Homo sapiens: one gene and its partner. The protein of the gene in region 2 interacts with the protein of the main gene of each other region in a pairwise test. Each region holds a gene or a part of one and is shown on either strand. Other genes may lie near its edges.

Region 1 (3,827 bases), on a different chromosome or scaffold from region 2:
GTTCACGCCATTCTCCTGCCTCAGCCTCCTGAGTAGCTGGGACTACAGGCACCCACCACGACGCACGGCTAATTTTTTGTATTTTTAGTAGAGATGGGGTTTCACCGTGTTAGCCAGGATGGTCTCGATCTCCTAACCTCATGATCCACCCACCTTGGCCTTCCAAAGTGCTGGGATTACAGGCGTGAGCCACCGCACCCGGCTTGTATTTTTTTAAAGCAAATCTTTCCCTTTCAACTTACCTTGTCCATTCGGTCTCTTTCTACTCCAAACCGACCTCCATAGCCATGGGATGCTTTGGGCCCTGACTCCATCTCTTTCTTCCTGAGAACATCATGCTCCTCTGATACTTTGTTCCTCAGCTGGTGGATGCTGGAAGAAACCACATGACCAAGGCTCATCTATCCTAGGGAGATCAAGAAACCCATCTTCCCAGAAAAATGGAAGCCTTGAAGTCTGTCCTGTTTACTTTCAGTAATAACCTGGGCCCCCAAAATATACTAGTGATGGGTCTGGAAGTAAAAGATCAGTCTGGCCTGCATACCATAGCCTGATTTAAACTCTCCATAGGCCAATAATATTTCCTCTAGTCTGTTATTTGCTCACTAAAATAACCTTCTGATCTTTAGTCCCATTTTTCATGTTCTTAAATATTAGAGGACAATGGTACCTATATTCTGATAACTGGAAAGTTATTTTCTTTTCTGAATGGATCTGCTTTCTATCAATTAGAGGATGTGTCTCAAAAAGCAGAAAAATATTCACATACCATTGGACCTACACATTCTAGTTTTAGCAGTCTACACCAGGGAAATGATTTTAAATATGGCAAAGCTTAATGTCCTTAATGTCTAAATGATACTCATTGAAGCATCGTATATAATAGCAATAACTAAGAAACAATCTATATGACCAATGGTTGGATAATAGTTAAATAAATTGAAATACTACCTTTCACTAGTGTACTAGGAAGTCATTAAATATAATGCTTATAAAAACACAGAACTGGGGAAATTTATGTAAACATTAGTGGTATTTTTTATGCTTTTTGGTCATGAATTAAGATCTTCTGCCCCTTCCCCCCAGGCTGATAATACCTGAGAAAACTAAGGACTAATGAAAACTAACTAAGAAAATCCACTCACAGTTATTGCTATAACACTTTAAGCCTCAAATTATCTTGATTTGAAGGGACACCTCTATCCCTAAGAGAAAGTACCACCAAAAAAGGCATTATCTTTCTTACTTCACACCCACTTCCATCTTTACCATGAAGGTGACTGCAACAATTAAGAGGGCAGAAAGCCATCTTGGCCAACCTCTTTGGCTTGAGGATATGAAGTGATAGCTCAGCCCCACGTGACAATCAGATCTGTTATTTGGACACATATAAGGATCCGGGGATTCTTGGAAACATTTGGGCAAGAGAACCCTAAATAAGAAATTTGACTTTCTGCAGCAAGCAATGAGGGTTTAGGGTATTAAGATAGTGATGTTAGATGGTGAGCTGGGACTTTACCAGCGCAGGACAACCAGACACATTGGTTATACGTAGAATGGCTGTCTCACAGCAGAAATTGTCTTCTTTTAAGGAAGAATAGATCCATCTGGTGGCCTTTAGTGGATAATTCTACCAAAGGTCTTTTTAAAAAGCCTTCTCAGCTTTAGCCGCAGTTAATTTTAGAAAGCTGGCTATGAACCAGATGAAATTAAGCCAAGTGCTGGAAGAACCCCCTGTTCCCATGCCTCCTCTAAACTCTCTGGCAGCGTTGAAAGCAGAGATCTTGTGTTGTCAGTTCAACACCAACACTGTGTCATAAGCTACTAGTACCAAGGACATGTAAATGCCTGCCCAATATCTTCCAACTGAAGTATTCAGATGAAAGATCAAGAAAATGGGGCCAAAATTTACTTTCAAATGGAAAAAATCTGCAATTTTTTAATGAATATAATAATTGTTAAATGGGTTATAACTATATTATAGTTAAAACAAGTTTTTAAAAGGGATTAGAAAATGATACTCAGAAATATTCATCTAAAGGATAACAGAAAAACTAGTCAGGGGATCATACCAATGATATAATTTGAATGAAATTGTTGAGGCCCAAAGAAAACAGACTTCTTTAGGTTATAGTGGAAGTCATTCTAAACAGGTCTTTATTATTATTATTATTATTGAGACAGAATCTTGCTCTGTCGCCCAGGCTGGAGTGCAGTGGTATGATCTCAGCTCACTGTAATCTCCGCCTCCCGGGTTCAAGTGATTCTCTTGCCTCAGCCTCCAGAGTAGCTGGGATTACAGGCATGCATGTCATGCCCCGCTAGATTTTGTATTTTTAGTAGAGACAGGGTTTCACCATGTTGGCCAGGCTGGTCTCAAACTCCTGACCTCAAGTGATCCTCTTGCCTTGGCCTCCCAAAGTGCTGGGATTACAGGCGTGAGCCACCACGCCTGGCCTAAACAGGTCTTAATCACATCATTCCTTCATTTTATAACTATTAACTAAACAACTTTTAAGTGTGAGGTACTGTTAGGCTCTGAGGACACAAAAATGTTTTATGTATGGAGATAGAGGACAGCTAGAAGAGATAGAGAGGAAAACAAAAAATTCCAATTCAATATGCTGTGTTGTGCCTAAGAAACTTTTGACATATTAACTCTCAGATATCCAATTTAAGTTTTAAAAGACTTTGTATTGATAAAGCAATGCAGTTTATGTGAACCAAGCAAAATGTAGCACCTCAAAGATGACTCATTCCTCAATCTGTGTTTGTTTTTTATTACAAAACTAAAAGCACAAATGTGAGTGACTCAGAATATAAGGTTTTTATTCACAGATGACCTGATCATGTATGTAGAAAATCCTAAAGAATTCACACAAAAAAAGCTACTAAAGCATTGTGCATTTGGCTAGGTCACAGGATACAAGGTCATTATATCAAAATCAATTGTATTTTTACATACTGGCCATAAACATTTGGAAACTGGAAGTTAAATATAAATACATGAAATAACATGAAACATTTTAGGATAAACTTAACAAAGTATGTGCAAGACCTAAACACTAAAAAATATTTCTGAAAATATTAAAGAAGATCTAAATAAATGGAGAGATATCCCATGTTCATGGATTGGAAAACTCAATATCATTAAGATGTCAGTTCTCCCTAAAATGATCTATAGATTCAATGCAATCCCAATCAAAATCTGAACAGGCATTCTTGTAGGAATTGACTAGTGAATTATAAAATTTATGTGAAAATGTAAAGTCCTGGAATAGTAAAATCTTTTGTTTCTTTTTTTTTTTTTAAGGAGAGCAAAGTTGAGGACTACATAATTTCTTGACTTATAAAGCTACAATAATCAGTGCAGTATGGTATGCTGTCAGGGTAGAAAATAGATCAACAGAACAGAATAGAGTCCAGAAATAGACCCACATGTATGTGGTCAAAGATGCCAGGTAAGTCAATGGGAACAGAATACTCTTTTAATATTGTTGAACAACTAAATAATCACATGGAGAAAAATGAACCTCAATCTTGACCTCACACTGCACAGAAAAGTCTACTTGAAATGGGTCATAGACTTAAATGTAAAAGCTAAAACTGTCAGTCCTTTAGGACAAAACATCAAAGAAAGTCTTCACAACTTTGGGGTAGGTAAATATTTCTTAGACACATAAAGCATTAGCCCCATAAATTTTTTTTCAATAAATTAGACATCATCAGGATTAAGATCTTTTGCTCTTAAAAAGATGCCATTAATAAAATGAAAAAGTGGCCAGGTGTGGTGGCTCACGCCTGTAATCTCAGCACTTTGGGAGGTC
Region 2 (3,827 bases):
AGGAAAAATTTTAAGCTGACTCAAGGGGAAAATGTTTAGTATCTGCCTGATACACACGAAAGTGCATATGACATTTCCAGTTTCAAGCTTGGTAATCATTATGCAAACTGCACTATACTATTAGGATACTGGCTAACAGTATAGCTCCATTTTGTGGAGATGTAGTCAAAAAATAAAGGTTTTAGCTGGAAGAACTTTTTTTTTTTTGAGATGGAGTCTCGCTCTGTCACCCAGGCTGGAGTGCAGTGGTGCGATCTCCGCTCACTGCAACCTCTGCCTCCCGGGTTCAAGCTATTCCACTGCCTCAGCCTCTCGAGTAGCTGGGATTACAGGTGTGTGCCACCACACCCGGCTAATTTTTTGTATTTTTAGTAGAGACGCGGTTTCACTGTGTTAGCCAGGATGGTCTGGATCTTCTGACCTCGTGACCCGCCCGCCTCGGCCTCCCAAAGTGCTGGGATTACAAGCATGAGCCACCACGCCTGGCCTAGCTGGAAGAACTTTTAAAATACAAAGCAAATTTTCTCAGTGAGCAATCATGTCTTTAAAAAATAATACTCAGGGCACAGTGTTAGGCATATGACAGTTACTTTAAAAAATGCCTGCAGACCCGGGCGCGGTGGCTCATGCCTGTAATCTGAGGCAGGCAGATCATGAGGTCAGGAGCTCGAGACCATCCTGGCCAACATGGTGAAACCCTGTCTCTACTAAAAATACAAAAATTAGCTGGGCATGGTGGCACATGCTCAGGAGGCTGAGGCAGGAGAATCACTTGAATTCGAGAGGCGGAGGTTGCAGTGAGCTGAGATTGCACCACTGCACTCCAGCCTGGCGACACAGCACGACTGTCTCAAAAAAAAAAAAAAAAAAAAAAAAAAAAGCCTGCAGAATAAATGAAAACAACAATAACAAAAACTGGGGGTCAGTCCCACACCACTATTCACTGCATCTCTGGAATTCAGCTTTTGGGATTTTTTTTCTATAAAATGAAGTTGATATTTTCCCACTTCCTAAACAGAATGAATGTTTTAAGGAACAAGGAAAGAGCATTTGCTTTGAATTTCTAATATTAAAAGGAACTATAAGAATAGAAATACAGTTAACCACTATTTTCTTAACTCTCAACGAACAGATATATTTCTGCTTTAAATGAGTGTTGTCTATCACGGCCAATCAGCTGCTAGCAAACTCTTACCATTTATCCAAACTCTGCCCTGAGGCACTTGCTGTCTTATCCAACCAACCATGTACAACTCTACCTCCACCCTTTAGCTATATACAAGGATTTCCTGTGTCAAAGAATAATGAGTGGGCCTGGCACGGTGGCTCACACCTGTAATCCCAGCACTATGGGAGGCCGAGGCTGGTGCATGACCTGAGGTCAGGAGTTCCAGACCAGCCTGACCAAGATGGTGAAACCCTGTCTCTGCTAAAAACACAAAATTAGCTGGGTATGGTGGTGCATGCCTGTAATCCCAAGCTACTTGGGAGGCTAAGGCAGGAGAATCGCTTGAACCCAGGCAGCAGAGATTGCAGTGAGCCGAGATCACGCCATTGCACTCCAGCCTGGGCAACAAGGGTGAAACTCCATCTTAAAAAAAAATTAAATTAAAAAAATAATAATAATGAGTAGGCAAACAGGGAAGAATATAGAGGAGAAAAATTATCTTAATAAGAACAATAGAATTTGAATTGAAGAAGGCTAGGAAATATATCTTAACTAGCCTAAAATACAAAAAATCAATGTTAATACTTGTGTTCTTCCAATGAGATGATATTTTTGAGGGCAGTACAAATTTCAATAGTTGCTTAAGTGAATTGGTAGAAAAAAGTTTAAGATTAGACAAAGTTCTGACCCCAAAGAACATACATTTGTTTTAATTACTCCCAATACAATTGATCTTATCAAGTTAGATGTGCTCTCAACACACATCAGTCTTAACCATAGGAGCCTTTACTCACTTGTTTAAGGCAGAAACTCAACTGCCTTACACAATATCCAGTAGCTTTCTTCATTCAATCCTCAAGAAAAACTTACCACTTTGTAATTTACCTAAACTGTTTACCTAGAGAAAACCTTTGTGTCCTTAGAATTAGCTGGATTACTCTTTGAGCTCCCTCCTGATTGGACGCTGATGCTGTTGAATGTGTCAGGAAACGTCCTCAGAAGTGGAGGGAGCTCAAGAGTTTTGTAAGTGGTTAAATTCTAAGGCTCACAAACCAAATTTTTTAGATGTATTCAAATGCCCGTGAAGCTTAGAATTTAACAAGAGGGCAAAAAAAGATGAGTCTGTTTTATTATCCTTGACTATGCGGGGTTTGAAATTTAAACATTTCAGAAACAATTTAGATCTATCCTTTGTGGTGAAGCTTAACCAGCTATTTCCCAGGTATATAGAGCCGGGGAATCTGTTATTTCTTTCATCAACTTTAATTTTCCTGGGGTTTTAGCTTTGTAAGTGTCACCATTATAAAAGAGAGTTAAGTTGATTTATAGAGGAAAAGCTAACATCATGGATCTTAAATGTAGTTATAGAACACTGAATGTATCCACTTTGCTGGTTTTATGGATCAGGAAAAAAGTGAAAACTGTGCCACTGAAAAATTACTTTTTCAGTGATTTTTAGAAAATTAAAATCAACCCAGGAAGCCCCAAAAATCCTGACGCTGAGGGTAGAAACATGATTTATATTTTATCATCATTCTCTTTCAACTCATGTAAACCTCTGGTCATAAAATCTCAAATTACTTTTTAAGGTGTCTAAGAAAACACTCTAGACCAAGTTAACAACCCTGGGGTTTTTAGTCAATGCAGTTCTAGCTCAGTCTCTGTCTCTGCATGCTTATTTATCTATGTGTGTATATCTTACTGTTTCTTAAATATTTTTTAATGTCTCTCTGACTCTTCTCCCTTTAACTGTTTTTTTTATTAAAAATGAGATATACCACATCTGTAATCCCAGCACTTTGGGAGGCCAAGGCGGGCAGATGACGAGGTCAGGAGATCGAGACCATCCTGGCTAACACGGTGAAACCCCGTCTCTACTAAAAAAATACAAAAAAATTAGCTGGGCGTGGTGGCGGGCGCCTGTAGTCCCAGCTGCTCAGGAGGCTGAGGCAGGAGAATGGCGTGAACCCGGGAGGCGGAGCTTGCAGTCAGCCGAGATCGCGCCACTGCGCCCCAGCCTGGGCGACACAGAGAGACTCTGTCTCAAAAAAAAAAAGAGGTATACTCAATGTTAAAAAGTAAAGAGAAGCCATGTAGGTAAGATGTTGTGGAGCTAGTAGTTAAAAAATAAAACTACTCATGATTTGGTATATCTTAAAATAAATTTTTATACATTATAACATATGTATAACATACAGTTATGCATTAAAGTAACTATTAATTTCCTATATGGAAGAAAATATTTAAAAATAATCCTGGTAGGAGTGAATTCATGTGAAATGTAGGCAGAAGTGATAGTTTAGAATATGCTTTAAAACAGATTTCATTTACTTTATATTCAATTTGATTTTACTGATTCTATAACTGGAAAAACTTAGAATTCTATAAATAACTATTTAAGGTTTCCATATTTCTACATTGATTTCTGATTTCTAAATTGTTATTTCGTTTGTGAAAAGTTCACAGTAGTAATTGAATGTTACATTTTAATAGCCACATATTAATATGTCTTATGAGAAGATCTAATATATACAACCTTAAAACCATGGATAAGCTGTGAAGAAAAAAAGTCAATGAAACTTGAGGAGGAAAATAATTTATGAATTAAAAATGCCACGCAAATTTTCTTTTTCAGAATTGGTATAAAAATTCTGAAAGA

What was found.
Region 1: the proteins of ZBTB25 (region 2) and HCLS1 interact in a two-hybrid assay, tested with the Homo sapiens proteins (one large-scale study listed by BioGRID and IntAct).

The regions. Positions count from the first base shown.
Region 1 is NC_000003.12:121,647,077-121,650,903, forward strand, and holds part of HCLS1 (hematopoietic lineage cell-specific protein), read right to left. Parts: intron 373-3,827; coding exon 243-372; intron 1-242. UniProt on the Homo sapiens protein: Substrate of the antigen receptor-coupled tyrosine kinase. Plays a role in antigen receptor signaling for both clonal expansion and deletion in lymphoid cells. May also be involved in the regulation of gene expression.
Region 2 is NC_000014.9:64,483,089-64,486,915, forward strand, and holds part of ZBTB25 (zinc finger and BTB domain-containing protein 25), read right to left. Parts: 3' UTR 1-3,827. UniProt on the Homo sapiens protein: May be involved in transcriptional regulation.